Regions from separate parts of the Homo sapiens genome. Here region 1 is linked to region 2. Evidence: fine-mapped expression QTL. Tissue or cell type: whole blood. Region 2 holds a variant in brackets; the other region holds the start of a gene. All regions are shown on one strand. Distances are between the middles of the regions.

Region 1 (8,166 bases), 46 kb before region 2:
TGGGGAGGGGTTATGCAGAAAAAAGCCTGGTGGGAAGAGGGCTATTGTTGTCTGACTTCTTGGCTTATCTAAATATCCCACATTGAGTACAATTGCTTAAGACTGGGGTCCACTTCCATTAACAAGTCTATGTGAGACAAGAATCAATAATGACTGTGATAAAATAGCAGCAGGGCACTGTGGCTCATGCCTATAATCCCAGCACTTTGGGAGGCCAAGGCAGGCGGATTGCTTGAGCTCAGGAGGTTGAGACCAGCCTGGGCAACATGGCAAAACGCTACCTCTACCAAAAATACAAAAGATTATCCAGGCATGGTGGCATGCTCCTGTAGTCCCAGCTACTTCGGAGGCTGAGGTGGGAGGATTGCTTGAGCCTACAAGGTGGGGGTAGCAGTGAGTGGAGATTGAGCCGCTGCACTCCAGCCTGGGTGGCAGAGTGAGGCCCTGTCTTAAAAAATAAAATAAAATAGCAGACAAGTTGCATATTTAAGTTTCATCCAGAGTTATGTTGTTGAATACACATCTCCATCCAAATTTACAAGATGTATCGAGGGAATGACTGCATACAATGAATATTGTAAAATACATTTTTATGTTGTAATTTTTCTGCTTTTGAATTTTATTTTACCCTATTCTTATTTTTTTGGTATGTCGGTTCAATGCTGCCAATTAGCCTTTTTTTGGGAAGGGAGAGGCTGCTCTTTATCTCACTTTTGTGGTGATAAATGTTCTTTCTCTTACAAAACTATGTTGTCAGAAGATGTTAGTAGAGTGATATCCTCACTTTACCAAATAAAATAAAAATTCATAAAACCTTGTCATTCCTTGCCCCCATTATTTTTGGATAGCTCGCTGAAGCATAAATTCTCAAACTTGGAGAAGTATAGCTTTAGCGATTACTTGGTCTACCCCTTCATTTTGCATAAGTGGAAACTGGCTCAGACAATAGAGCAATTTGCCTAAGGTCACACAGACAGTAAGTGGAAAAGCCAGATATTAAACTAAACCAATTGAGCTGACTTCTTTCTATCACTCCAAGCTGCTAAAAAGCACTTTATTACTAACAGCAAAGAAAGGGTGTTAGGTATGTGCTAGCTTAATTGTCAGGCTCTGATGTATAATTGATGTCATTCTTACTGATGTATTATTGATGGGGCATCTATTTGCTGTGCACACAGAATGGAAAGGACTACTGGTCCCCGTCCTAAACTGCCACATCTGTGGTTACACGTGTGACCATTGCATCAATTACATGGCATGTAAATAACAAGTGAGCATGGTTGTGGCATGGGAAATAGGCTTGAGGGGGTTACTTGCATTCAGGAACCAGGAGTAAGATGGCATAAAAAACCTACTTATAAAATCTCTCAGATACAGTCAAATGTAAGTTTTTTTTTTTTTTTTTTTTTTTTTTTAACCAAAACAGGAACTCCCAGTTCTACATTAGTTAGCAGTCTGGGCCTGTCCAAGCCAGTGTTTGGGTAAATGCTGGGCATACCCTATCAGCTATGAGCAAGTGACAATGTGATGGGAAGGGTGGGTAACTGGAACATGCAGAGACAAGAGAGGCAACTGGGCTAAGTGACTAGGGCGGGGTGGGGGGTGGGCCTAGCAATCCCTGAAGGCATTTATTTCAAAAACAGTGTGGATGCACAGGGCAGCTTTAGGGGAGCTCCAAGTTCAGGCCTGGCACTGTCCACCTCCACATCACATTCTACTATTTCATTGCCTGTTGCCCCTATAAAAAAAATCACCAAGGCTGCAGTGAGCCATGACTGTGCCACTGCATTGCAGCCTTGGTGACACAGCGAGACCCTATCTTGAAAAAAACCAAAACAAACAGGCAAAAAACAACCCAAAAACTGCCTCCCATAAAACCAAAAACAAAACAAAAAATCAAATTTAAAAAGCTCGCAATTGAGTTGCCAGGCTTCATGAAGCAAATGCAAGCTTCGTACAAACTGTAAATCATGTGATGTGTCCAAAGAGTCATCATTTCAGGGCACGTCTATCACTAGAATCCACACCACCTTCAATCTCATGGAATATCTGTGTAGTTTATTTTCCCAGTGCGTGCAAGGCTTTCCTCAACAGCGGAGAGCTTTTGCATAGCAGGAGAACAAACTAGGATAGCCAAGAGCAAACCTGAAATGACTAATTTTATTTTTTACACTTTTTTTTAACCCTAAGTAAAATGTTGGGTTTTTTAAAATAATTCAGGTGTGTTTATTATGCTTAATTCATTTCACTACTAAACACTTGCCTTTTGGATTCTAAACTGCAGAATGGTCAGAAGTGGCATGTGCAGAATCAGCAGATTGTACGAACTCTCTAACGCAGCTCTCTAACGCAAATGATCTGAAAGACAGCTGACAAAGCTAAATGTGCTCTTCAAATGTATCTACAGGACAGTCTGATATTTTAAAAAGAGAAAAATGTTTCCAGGACTTCTTACTCTGTATTCTATCCAACAGCTATTTTGATTCTCTTCTTCCAGGAGATAGGGCAGTCTTTTCCTACTATTGTTTAAACTTTGCTCCCTTTTGGTAAACAAATCCCTCAAGGCTGGGTTTTTTTTTTTTTTTTAAGACAGAGTCTCGCTCTGTTGCCAGGCTGGAGTGCAGTGGCGCAATCTCGGCTTACTGCAACCTCCGCCTTCTGGGTTCAAGTGATTCTCCTGCCCCAGCCTCCCGAGTAGCTGGGACTACAGGCGTCTGCCACCACGCCCGGCTAATTTTTTGCAGTTTTAGTAGAGATCGGGTTTCACCAGGTTGGCCAAGATGGTCTTGATCTCTTGACCTCGTGATCCACCCGCCTTGCCCTCCCAAAGTGCTGGGATTACAGACGTGAAGGGCTGGGGTTTTTGAAAACGCAATTCATGCCCCTCCCCCATTGGTTTCATTTATGTAGGTTCTTAGGTAAACAGTTTTTTCTTTCCCCAAATATACAATTAATTTACAATATTGACTGTTATTTTGAACTTATGCCATTGGCTTCCTTGTGTGCTCCAGTTCTTTCCTCCCACCGAAGATTCAATCCGATAGATCAGGGGTAGGAAAACTTTTTCTGTAAAGTGCCAGACAGGAAATGCTTTGGGCTTTGCCAGCTGCTACTCAACCCTGCTGGGTAATGCGAAAGCGGCCACAGAAAACACAGATGCAAATGAGCGTGACCGTGTTCCAGTAAAATTTTACGGACACTGAAATCGTAATTTCATGTAATTTTCACGTGTCACAAAGTATTATATTTCTTTTTATTTCTTTTCAGTCATTAAAAAAAGTAAAAAAAAAAAAAATTCTTAGCAGGCCTTACAGTAACAGGCAGCAGGCGGGCAGTAGGTCATCACCCCAACGCTAGAGGAATGAGACCATATCGATCCGCGAGGATCAAGTCCTGATCCTGTCCCTGGCGACTTCTCCAGGCTGCGCGGTCTCTTGGAGGCAGCGTTCCCATTTTCAGGATTATTCCGGGGCGCTAGAGCACCACGCCACCATGAGTACACGTCCTCCTCGGCAGGCCACCTATCAGCTCTGTGAGGGTGGCAAGAGTCCAGGCAAGGCTTTCAGGGCGCAACCAAGTCCCGGGCTCCAGCACAGAAACCCTCTGGAAACACCTCCAGGCCCCAGCAAGGCGGCGCGGCGCGGCAGGGGCGAGCAGGTACGCACTCACCTGGCGCCAGTTCGAGTCCTCCCAAACACAGCGGCAGAGGCGACAGCCAAGCGCGCGCCTGTACCCAGTGCGCCGCTACCCGCAGCTCGCTCCCCGAGAGGCCCACAGCCCCTTTCCCCACGCTCCTCCTGGGTTAGAGGGATGCCAGGTAGGGGCGGTCACCAGAGGCCCCTTTTCTCTACTCTCGGCGCCGGGTTCCAGCCCCCGTTGGGGCGGGGCGGGGCGGGGCGGGGCTCCGGCTAGCTTGGCCTCTTCCGCGCGCCCCTGCGCAGCTCCGGCCCTTCCCTATCGGGAGCGCGCGCGGCCCGCGGCACTGCACTGGCGCACGCCCGCTTCGCCCTCGCTCGGCTCCGGCTGGTTCCGCCGCCGTGCGCGCCGCCCGCGCTCCTGCTGCGGCGAAGCTGCCAGCCCGGGAGCCAATTAGCGCTCGGCTAGGCGGGGTCCACTTCCTCGTCGGCCCGGCGCGCGCTCTGGACTGCTCCGGCGGCCGCGGGGCGGGGCGGAGCACTCGGCGGAGCCGCTCTGCCTGCGTCCGCTCTTCCCGCAGCCAAGGGTGGGCGCCGGTCCTAGGAGGCGCACGGTTGTAAGCCAGACAAAAAGAACTGGGGTGCCCGGAGTGCCAGGTGGCGGGCAAGCGGTGGGCTTTTCGGCGGGGTCTTTAGGATTTGCAGCTCCAGGAAGCGAGATGTCGAAGCCGCCACCCAAACCAGTCAAACCAGGTGAGGGAGGTAAGGTAGGCGCTTGCCAGGTCCTGCGACCGCCGCGGTGCCGGCGCCTCCTCTGCAGCTTGGCAGGGAGGACCCGGCGCGCACCCGGCCCCGAGCCTGGCTTCCGAGATCGGCCCCACCGGGATGGGCGCTCTTAGTTTTGCGTTCGCTGTTACGGAGGAGGGATCGATTTTGATAGCAAGAGGATTTCGAGGATTAATATATATATATATATTTAAAGGGGAGTAGCCCTCACTTTTGCTACGTTGTCATTCGCTGAAACTTTCAGAGGGTGTGATGGCAACGTCCCATGGAAGTTTTCCGGAAAGACAGGGCCATTGATCTCCCTTTAAAAAATGTCATGAAATGATCTTTAGCCACTTCCTCTTTTCTCAGTGTTTGTCACTGTCAAGTTAGGGTTCCTGACCGGCCAGAGCGAACGGGAAGTGCAATCCCTGCAGGGTGGGGTGGGCGAGCGAGCCTCCCTCGGGACTTAAGCGTGGAGCAGCGTTTGAAATTGACCTCGGGATCTTGGGAAGAGCGTTTAGAAAAAAACCCTATACTCGCGCTCCTGGTGGAAAGAATCTAGGATGCGGCAGTGATCTCAGCTGTTGCTATTTGGAAGTGTCATTTTATCATCTCCTTTGCCTTTGCTCTCCCAAAGACGTTGGCGTGCTAAACCTGAGAGGGCTGAGATTACTAAATTCCTCAAAGCAGTTTTCTGGGCGGATTGTCCTTGTTCATTTTTGCTCTGTTCTTAGAATATTTTCTGTGATATGCAGAAATAAGATAATTGTAAAAGAAACTGACGTATTTTAATTAAAAGTTGTAACATACTGTTCCGCTCATTCATTTGGGTAGGTAATTAGAAAGGACTGACGTATTTCAATACTTTAACAACTCTTACGTGCATTCATTTGGGTAGGTAATTAAGGGAAATACAGGAAATGGAAGATAAATGGCTCCGATGTATTCTTGGGTTTTTTCTTCCCATAGTGTAATTTCGGTATAGCGAAATGCTGAAATTTAATCCATTTACGTCAAATTTTGAAGTAACTTTCTTTGCAAGAGATGAGTTTCAGTGATTACTTTTTTCCTTGATTTTCCTAAACTCTATAGCTTTCATACTTATCTAGTTTTGTTTCTTTGCGTTCCTGCAGTTGGAGTATGAAGTCCCTTTATTTGATAATCATGTACGTACGTATGTGGAATAGTGCTTCACTGAGGACTGACATCTTGGTGGGCTGAGTGTGAAGGAAGTTGCTGAGACTGGCTCTGCCCTGGGCAAAGATGGGGCACAGCTAGAGTTGGGTTCTGCATTGCATTAGATGTGGAATCTGATGAGAAATTTCCATTTTAAGTGCATATGTATGAGGTAGCTTTCTAAACTCAGGTGCAAATCAGGACCTTAAGTATCTAACAGTGCAGAGTTGTTCTTTGATAGCTAAACAATATTTTATTTATCTTATTTTTTTCTGATCACCTGCTGCCAGTTGAAATACGTTAAAGAATGCCCTTTTTAAAAATCTCTTCATGCGTATTAAATGCTGTCTATATTGCAAATGGAGGGACATTGACAGGTGTGTGTGTGTGTGTGTGTGTGTGTGTGTGTGTGTACACAGTAATGTATACATGTGGGTTCATTCACACTTGGGGGTTTAAGGGTCATCCTGTTACTAATTGTGGATACATTCCCAGGAACCTCCTTTCTCCTTCACATCAGAAAGCTTATGGTTAAACATGACAGGTGTTTAGAGGGAACTTTGCATTTTATTTTATTTTAATTTGTTTTATCTGGTCCTTGATTCAGGATAAAGGGAATTTTGAATCAACATTAATTTACAAATGAGATCCAGACACAAAGTTACCATAGAAATGGGTTTGCCAGTTTAGTAATTTACAGTGAGAAACATTACTGCCAATCAGAGTTGAAACTTTGTGTGGGCTAGCTTAGTTGAAGAAAAAAAAAAAGCGATGGCCAGGAGCAGTGGGCCATGCCTGTAATCCTAGCACTTTATGAGGCTGAGGTGGGAGGATTGCTTGAGGCTAGGAGTTTGAGACTAGCCTGGGCAACATAGCAAGACCCCGTCTCAACAGAGTACAAAAAACAAAAACAGAAATGTCCTATCGTAGTACTGTCCCACATTTACTGTGTGTTAGGCAATGGTATAGTCACTTTACACGTGTTAACACATTTGCTGCTCTCAACAATCTTATGAGATCAGTACCATTATATTGTTCCTGTTGCACAGATGGGGAAATAAAGATGCGCAGAAATGTTATTTAACTTGTCTAAAGTCAACAGTTAGAGTGGGGGATGTAGCAGGCAGTATTAAAACCCAGGTAGTCTGGCTTTGAAGTCTGCACTTTTTTTTTTTTTTTTTTTTTTGAGACAGACTCTCGCTCTGTTGCCCAGGCTGGAGTGCAGTGGCGCGATCTCGGCTCACTGCAACCTCCGCCTCTCGGGATCAAGCAATTCTCTGCCTCAGCCTCCCGAGCAGCTGGGATTACAGGCAGCCCGCCACCATGCCCGGCTAATTTTTTTTTTGTATTTTTAGTAGAGACAGGATCCAGGCTGGTCTTGAACTCCTGACCTTGTGATCCACCCTCCTTCGCTTCCCAAAGTGTGGGATCACTGTGCCTGGCCAAAGTCTGCACTCTTAACCATTTGCTATTCTGCCTTAAGTCATAGTGCTCCATTCACACTGGCGGTCAAATGTGTATTTTAGAGCTGGTGGTCAGGAAGTCGAAAGGGAGGGGCCTCTGGTCTACAGACTTTCTTGTCACAAATGCACATAAAGGTCAGCCCCTGGTTGACAGCAAGGAGAGTGGTGTGGAGCTTTACTTTCTTGTCCTGCAGGCAAGCTGCATGGATAAAAATCTCCAAAGACAGCATGGGATTGGGGGCTTTGGGGTTGTATTTAATTTTTTGGTTTGTTTAAACCTTGCCTCATTCCAAAAGGACTTCTAAAAATACACATGATCTGAGAGAGAGGAAAAAGTAAAGATAAAGCATGGTCATCTAGAGGAAGGGAAGAATAGTAAGATGAAACAAGAGGAAAAGCTAGCTTACAGACAGACCTGCATGTGTAGTAAGGTCACTGTAGATTTGGCTCTCAGCTGCAAGCAGAGAGAAAAATCTCAAGATTCATAGTGCTCATAAAATTAAAATGTGTCACTTACTCTGAAAAGTAGTTATTTTAATGGCATTGAGATCTGAGACAGATTTTCCTGTGGGTTCTCTTAAAGTATTGGAGTGGCCTGGATATCTCTAGCAGAAATACAAGACAGAACATCCTAGCCATGTTTCTTACAGCTTCTTTCAGAGCAAGATTTGGGCAAAACAGCATGGCTCAATTCAGTAGACAATACTAAAAGGAAAGGAGCTAGGTGAGTAAGGACAAAGGACTTGCTGGAAGATATTAAAAACAAGGGACATTAAGCTATAATGCAGGCTAATAGCATCTTTCTGGCTGATCAGCACATCCCCAACAGGGGGCCGATTTGTGGAAGGAGGCTGCCCAGGGAAGTCCCGGGCAGATGCTAGTGGGAGACCCTGGCCATTTTTGTACCATCTGGAGGATAGATCAGGGTTACCTTGTTTGGGTTTTTGGCCATATCCAGAATTCATTTGCTAAACAAATGTTTCTTAATAAATGTAGCTCATATATTAGGCCCTGTGCTAGACACTGGGGTTCCCAGGAACAATAATCTATGGTGTCATTCACGAGGGTCCTGAGTCTAATGGGGAAGACGTATGTATCTACAGATATTACCTAGAGTATCCCAT
Region 2 (8,203 bases):
TAGAATTTATTTTAAAATAATCCAGGAGGGGAGGGACGTCATGGGGGCATATATGAAACAATATTGGTCATTAATAAATGATTTGTGCAGTTGGGAAATGGGTATATATATGGTCATTACATTGTTCTTTCTACTTTTTTGTAAGTTTAAATTTTTCTATAATAACAAGTTACCCCCAAAATGAAGATAATATAAAGAGATCTTTAGAACTTCCTCCCCCATAAAAAAAATTATCTCAAAGCTAAGAGAAATGAAACTGTGGACAAAAAATCATATAGCTAGTCTAAACTAGCGTAATTTGTTTTCTTCTGTTTCATGTCATCTCTTATTTGTTTGGTTGTTGAGACTCTGTCATGAAACGTATTCCATTTGTTGCAGGCAGATGCGTGTTTATTTGTAACTGAGTGGTAAGGGAGACGGACACCCACAGCTAGGGCGTGAGGAAGCTTGATAGTGTGGGTAGGGTTGATGGACATTTTGTAGAACAGGTACTCCCTAGGAGCTAGATAATTTGAAAAGTGAATGAATGCAGTCTGGATTTCATACCACTTAATTTAACTCTTCTTTTACCAGAGCGATACCAATTGGTGGAAAGGCACCTCCAAAGGCAGGACTGGACTAATTCCAAGCAACTATGGTAAGTGTTGCTGAGTGGTTTTACTTTAGCTTCGTTCACTTGGAATTTTTTGGTTCTTGATGCTTTTCTGCTTGCTACTGTGGCTGAGAAAGCAATGGAGTCATTGTCAGTCTAGGACATTTTCTATTCCATGAGCCTTCTGTTAATAAACTGGCCATGAACACCAGATGTGCTTGAGCCTGACTCTGTGGCCTAAGAGAATGCATTTTAGCATTCTTAACCCAAGGTTTCCAAGGAAACACTTATGGTTTTACTTTCTTCAACCCTTAAAACAATTTTTTTTAATGCTGATAAACTCAATCTTGCAGATAGTTTCTTAGACTAGCCGTTTCTTTTGTGATGGAGTAACCCGGCCTTGTTCATTCATGTTTGGGGCAGTGATGTTCATTAAATGCTTATCATGGCAGTTTGGAGACTTTGAGAGATGAGAGACACGGCTCCCGCCATGAAGCTGCTTCAAGCTGGAAGTGGGACAAACAGATAAAACACTTGTTTAGTTGTCAGCAGAATCAAGTCAAAAGAGCACAGAATTGATAAACAAGGCTCCTGAGTTTTAATCCTCTTTCTTCCATTTCCTAATAACACTTCCTACTGATTCTAGGACAGCAGCGAACATGCCTTCTTTAAGAGGCAGGTAGCTATGCTGATTGTTCTTTCTGAATACAGGAAGCAAAATACTCCCCTCATCCGATCCTACATAAATACACACAAGAGAACCAAAATTATTTTCAGGTATCTTTAAAGCAGAGTGATCTACAAAATGTAAAAATGAACATCAAATGCTTCCTTTTGCATTTTTGTGACTTTGTTTATTAAATACTTGAGTAATATCAAGTGTGCATTTAACTCAGGTATGCGGGTTTGTTTGTTTTTGTTTATACTTCCAGTTAATTACTATGTTATTGCCTTATTGCTTGGCTTGGTTTCCCTAAACACATAATTCAGCTTCATTTAATGCAAGAACTATCCATTTGATTTTCTGTTACTTTTTATCCACATTAAGTAAAGGAAACTGTGTTGAATGCCCTGGTACTCCTGAAGCTGGGGGACTGTGGTGAATGAGTGGCTTCAGTAAATCATTTGTGTGGCAATTCCACATTGGGTTAACACTTTTTATTTTCAATCTAGTGGCTGAGCAGGCAGAATCCATTGACAATCCATTGCATGAAGCAGCAAAAAGAGGTAGGTGTGATTCTTTTTGACTGAGGTATGCAGTACAGTAAAAGGCACGGATTTCAATTAGCTTTGACAAGTGCATACACCCACGTAACCAACACCCAGATCAAGATCTAGAACATTTCTGCCATCCTAGAAAGTTCCCTTTGCACCTTCTCAGTTAAATCCCTGCCTTACAGTCTGTCCCAACATCTACTACCCTAGAGAAGTGTGATTTTAGTTTTAAAATGTCAGTCAAGAAACACTGTTGTGGGGAGATGCAAGTCGAAAGACATGGTCTGTGACTTCCAAAGCACAACATCTGGCAGGGGAGAGAGAGATGTAACAGATCATTAAAATATGGTATGATAAGTACAGCAATTGAAATGTGTTTGACAGGCCGTAGAGGCCCAGGTGAGTAACTGGAGGGCAAGAGAATGGAAGGGTCTGGTGGGTACAGCATTTAGGAGAGCGTTGGTGTGGTGAGCATTTGGCCAGGGAGGGCATGACTAACAGGGATGAACCTGGGGAAGATCCTTGACCAAACAACGATCAGCCTTGTCTTGGGCTTTATTCTGTAGATCAGTAGTCCTCAGCTAGGGGTGATTCCTCTTTCACAAACCCCGAGGGTATTTGGCAATATCTGGAGACATGTTGACTGTCATGACTGGAGGGATGTTACTGGCATCTTTTGGGGAGAGGCAGGCGTTGTTGCCACACATCCTACAGCACACAGGAGCACCCCCACAATAAATCCAACCCCAAATGCCAATGGGGCTGCTGCTGAGAAACCCTGCTGTAGATAATGGGGAGTTTTTGTAAAGCCTCAATGAGCTCCATTTCATTCCATTTTTAGATTTTTTTGGAAATCTGAATGTACACAAGGAAATTATTGGTTAGGATTGTGAAAAAGTAAAAGGACTAAACTGACATTTAAAAAATTCTTTGTGAATTAGATACTTGGGACATTAGCCTGAGGATTTTAAATTAATAGTTATAGTTTAGCATATAAGAGCAGCAGCTTTGAGTAGGTTATTTAGCCTTTCTTATAGGAACTGAAGATGCATTTTAAATATGAATATGAATAGTATCTGCTTGTTCTTAGGTTTGATTGTTTTTTCCTCAATTTCCAGAATTTCACAAAGAAAAAAATAATATATACACATACACACACATACACACACACACACACACACACACACACACACACACACACCCCTATATATTTTTTAACAGAATAGAAATACCTTAAGTATACCCATTTGGGCAACTATTCCCATTAACTTATCATTAGAAACATTGATGTTAATACTTTCCATTAATAAGCTGGAAGTCAAAATGTACCATAATAAATGCATTAATGGGGAGGTCTTAATTTAATACTTGCTGATTAATCCATTGCAAATGGAAATTTATGCAGAATGACATTGATTTAAAAGCAAAATAAAAAGTGAAAGCTTTTTTTCTTGTGTTCTTGTAAATGTAAAATTCTTTCAGGCAACTTGAGCTGGTTGAGAGAGTGTTTGGACAACAGAGTGGGTGTTAATGGCTTAGACAAAGCTGGAAGCACTGCCTTATACTGGGCTTGCCACGGGGGCCACAAAGGTATTACATTTTGTTTGTTATATGTTTCTATGCTGCTGAAAATGTGTTTCACCTACGGGAGCCAGATTTACAAAAAATGAGAAAGGAAAAGCATTGGCTATTCTTTTTGAATCCTTTAGAATACCGGCCAAAACCCTTGTTCCTGGAAGCTCTGTAGAACAGTGGGTAGAATGTGGTCAGTCAGCCTCACTGCATGGGTCCCTCTCGCTTGAAAGACTGGACACTTCCTTTCCTCTCTCAGGCTTAGAAAGGTTACTGGAAAACAGCAGTAATATAAAAACAAAACCACTGTCTAATCTTACAGAAGGAAAGATCAGAATTTGCTCCTCTAGCTTAGCTTTTCACAAGGTCTTCTTTTATGATTTGCATTTTAAGTTTAATGCAAACTATTAGATTCAAGAGAAAGCCAACATTTGCCAAAGTTAGTGATTCCATTGATACTTTTTCTGTTGTAATCAATAATAATGACAAATTGAATTTTTAGATGTATTTCTTCCTGGACAAAAATTTATCACCCACCGCTTTTCTACCTCTCTCTATAACAAAAGAAATAAACTCAACAACAATAAGAAATGAAGATCTCAACAAATTAAATAGCAGTGCCAAAGGAAAATTTGTAACTGTCTACTAAAAAGAAGCCTATCTTATTT[C/T]AGCTAATAAACATGTTAGTTATATGAATGAAAAGTATTATAGTGAATGTAAAAATATTCCTCTAAGTGTCATATGAAAATGCAAAAGCCAAAACTATTAGAAAAAGTATATTTTCCTAAATAATTCCACTTTTTAGATTCTTAAGTTTTTCTATTTTATAAATTTTACAAAATGTGTTAACATTTTCTTGAAGGTTCTTCTGAAGAATCTCTCTTTTATAAAATTATTGTACCTAGATTTGTCAGGCTTCTAATTTTCGTTCTTAAAAGGTATCTTTTCTCTTTGAATTTCAGATATAGTGGAAATGCTATTTACTCAACCAAATATTGAACTGAACCAGCAGGTAAGACTGCTTATTTGAAAATTATTTAACACATACCTGCTTGTTGTCTTTAGTACAGAGCAACTCATGGGCATGTGAAGTATTGTAGTCAAAATCCCACAAGCACATAATTTAAAAATTATAATTGTACTAAAATTCAAATTATCCACAGCCCCAAGTGCCAAACCCACTCCTCCTCATATGTCACTTTCAGCTTTTAGCTCTTTCTTCCTGTACTTACCTTTGTGTTACTAAGGAATAGGCTGACGGAGCTATCTCGCCATGCATTGTCTTCATGTGTACTTTGGCCTCCTGTTGGGTATGTGAAGGGTTAAGCTTGTCAGCTGCCCCAGCTCTCATCTTTCAGCACCCCAGCACCAAGCCTGTTCTCCTCTGCTCCTCAGTGTACTTCATCACAGTTTTTGGTTATATTACTATATAATATTTACTTTATTATGGGTGTCTAAATAGTGTTCACTGCTTATATAACCTTTTTTTGTTTCTGTACTTACTTTTTAAAACTCATTTTTTGTTATCTCACTGTGACTTCTCTACTGTTTTATACAGTCTTGATATATAATACTTTTCCAAAATGTGTAAGATAATCAACAGCTTTCTTTTTTCTCCCTGGATTCATTACTTCCTGAAGCTCTCCATCATTCTCCAGTCTGAGCAGCTTGGTCCCTGTGGCCCTTTGCTGTCCTCCAGGGAACCCCTTCCGTTCTCTGCCATGTTGCATCTTCATTTTTCTGGATCCCTTGTCTTTCTTTTGTCAGAGAACATCTTCAAGTAGATTCCTGAGAAAGAGAAGCTTGGGATTGATTATATGGCTGATCAGAATTCTAGGTCAAAAACAGTTTCCCTTAGAATTTTGAAGGCATGGCTCTGTGGCATTCTTGTTTCCAGGGTTGCTTTTGAGAGATTTGGTGCCATTTTGATTCCCATTCTTTTATGTATGATCTGCTTTTTCTCTTGCTAAGAGTATTTACTTTATTGTTGGTGTTTTCAAATTTTATGATGATGTGCTAGCATTCATCTCTTCCCAATGATTATGATGAACTCTTTCAGCCTGGAAAATTATCTTGTATTTCTTTTAGAATTTTTATCTGACCCTTCTTTGTTCTTTTGGTTCTGGAATGCCCATTAGTAGGATGTTGGACTTCTTGGATTGAACCTTCAGTTTTCTTAATTTTTCCCAGAGATATTCTCACCTTTGTTTTATTTTGGTTATCTTTTTAATTCCCCAGAGTTCTGTATTAGTTTTCTATTGCTGCCTAGCAAACGACCACAGGCTTAGCAGCTTATACTTTCTGTACGTCAGAATTCTGGGCATGGCATAGCTGCGTTCTCTGCTCAGGGTCTCCCAGGTGGAAATCAAGGGATTGGCTGGAGCTGGATTCTCATCTGGAGCTTGGGGTCTTCTTCCAAGTGCATTTAGGTTGTAGGAAGAATTGATTTTCTTCTAACTGTAGTATTACTGAGGCCCTCAGCTTTTAGAGGCCACCCCTCTCTGTAGACAGCTCACAGTATGGCTGTTTGCTTTCTTCCTCAAGGCCAGAAGGAGATTGTCTCTCTGCTGTTTCATTGTTTTTATTTTTTAGGGGCCCACCTGGTTAGGTCAGGCCCACCTGGGATAATGTCCCTTTTGAAGAATTCAACATCCGCTGACTAGAAACCTAATTATGGGAGTGATAGCCTGTTACATTCACTGCTTTCACTTGCAGTCAAGAGGAGGGGGCCTGTACCAGGGCCAGGAACCTTGGGGGCCATTCTTAGAATTCTGTTATAAGCCCTTATTTTACTCTGATTGTTACTTTTACGTAGTATCTTTTTCTTGTTTCATGACACAATATGATCTTATATCTTGCTGATATAATATTTATAACTTTTCAAACTATGTTTTTTGGCTCTTCACTGTACTGTGTTTTTTCCCTTTGAGATCCATTTATTTTGTTTGTTTTGGTCTTTACTAAAATATTGTAGGCTTTCCACGAACACTTGGTGTCATTATCCATTCATTATTATTTTTTTAATTTGAGATGGAGTCTCGCTCTGTTGTCCAGGCTGGGGCGTAGTGGCGCAATCTCAGCTCACTGCAACCTCTGCCTCCCGGGTTCAAGCTATTCTCCTGCCTCAGCCTCCCAAGTAGCTGGGACTACAGGCCCATGCCACTGGCCTGGCTTATTTTTGTGTTTTTAGTAGAGACGGGGTTTCACCACGTTAGCCAGGCTGGTCTCGAACTCCTGACTTCAGGTGATCCGCTCTCCTCGGTCTCCCAAAGTGCTGAGATTACAGGTGTGAGCCACCATGCCTGGCCCTTATCCATTCATTTTTAGGTGTGATTGGAAGCTGTGTGTGCTTGGTGAGGCCTGCTGGCGGTTGGGCTTCTCCATAGGGTGATGTGGTGAGGTCCTGGCTATTTTGCTAGGTGACACCCAAATGCTAATGAAAGTGACACTCCTTCCCTTCCCTGCACATGGGGCTGCACTGCTTCACCAGAGAAGTGCCCTCCAGTCTCCTGCCTGGGGGTATGTGCACACTGGGCAGTGGGGTACGTAAAGGTACCTGAGAGAGGGGTCTTACTGTTCAGTCTGTAGGTTTTTTACCTAACCCTCAGGTTTGAGTTTCTGGCCTTTTGCTACTTCTCTTGTACCTAGTGTTCATGAACTTGGAAACTATCAGGTTAATTTCTCAACAAGTAAATCTGTCATCATTATTGGGTCATCTGGCAGCAAGAGAAGGGGAAGAGGTTCTGAGATTCTACTTTTTATGAGTACTTTAAACCAATATCTCTGTTTTCCCACCCATGCCTCATGCCTGCCCTAGCACCTCCAGGAATCTCCAATTCCTAATTTTTGCCAGGCTTCTGCATGTTCAAATCTGCTTCCTTCCTCCTGGATCTCCCTCCGCAGGCATGTGCTTTTCAGCTCGTGCTCCACCAAGTCAGCTTGTACTCCTCCATCCTATTCCATCTCCCAAAAATGACTCCTCTCCCATCTCTTGAGTCTCCTTTCCTTTTCTCTTTGGAATTTTATGTGGTTCTATAACTTTGTTCCCATTTTAGGTTTAACTTTTAGGTTTAACTGGGTTAAACCTGAATTAACATGTACTTTCAATCCACCCTCTATCTTAAAAATGGTACTTTCTCTTTTTATCACTATAGAACAAGTTGGGAGATACAGCTTTGCATGCTGCTGCCTGGAAGGGTTATGCAGATATCGTCCAGTTGCTTCTGGCAAAAGGTAAAGTTTGTGCTGAGTTTATCTGGTCTTTGCTTGCCCTGAAAAATAGTCTATATCAACTTACGCCATTTGAAATGGTAGGAAGAATAATAGTCTTATTTCAAAATAGGGTTTAACCTTTGCTCTGCCTGTGTATCATGGAATAGTTATGATAAAATAAAATTATTGGGGGTTGGTTTGTGTTAGTTTTTAATATAAACTAAAACCATGGCAAGCTTTAACATTACATATATTACTTTTAGTAAGAACTGTATTGTATGTTTCTGCAGGATTATAGAGCCTTAGAAACAAAGAATGTATGTGTACACGTGTGTTGGGGAGATCCTGTCTGAGAAAGCTGTATAGGTAAAGTTGCTGAGGCCCCTGTTCTCACAGGGAAGTCTTGACAGATAAGCAAGAATGATGCGGCTGCAATGTCCTGCTTTGAGCTGAGCAGGTGCTAGATGTAAAGTGAACGAGAGAGGATATCTTGATCCCCTGTTTTTATAAGTCAGAGGAAACAGTGAATTTATAAACTGACTATCCCTTTATCCTTTTGTCCCACAAATATTAGTTTACTCTTAGAGAAGGCCAGGCAGATCACCTATACCA

Evidence for each region. PIP is the estimated chance that this variant, and not a neighbour inherited with it, causes the effect.
Region 1: OSTF1 starts here. The variant in region 2 is fine-mapped to the expression of OSTF1 in whole blood (INTERVAL, PIP 0.95).

Annotation. Positions count from the first base shown.
Region 1 is chr9:75,084,339-75,092,504 of GRCh38, forward strand. It overlaps OSTF1 (osteoclast stimulating factor 1), which reads left to right and starts at 4,176. Exons shown (of 10, transcript NM_012383.5): 1 at 4,176-4,388. The coding sequence starts at 4,355. NMRK1 (nicotinamide riboside kinase 1) reads right to left here and starts at 3,817. Exons shown (of 9, transcript NM_017881.3): 1 at 3,670-3,817. RefSeq lists silencers at 3,687-4,286, 4,477-4,566.
Region 2 is chr9:75,130,005-75,138,207 of GRCh38, forward strand. OSTF1 (osteoclast stimulating factor 1) reads left to right here. Exons shown (of 10, transcript NM_012383.5): 4 at 574-637; 5 at 1,766-1,819; 6 at 3,290-3,397; 7 at 4,342-4,391; 8 at 7,534-7,612. Among named protein-coding and RNA genes, the nearest start is that of OSTF1, 46 kb to the left of the region's middle. RefSeq lists an enhancer at 6,749-7,248. The variant C/T (reference allele first, on the strand shown) is at 4,048.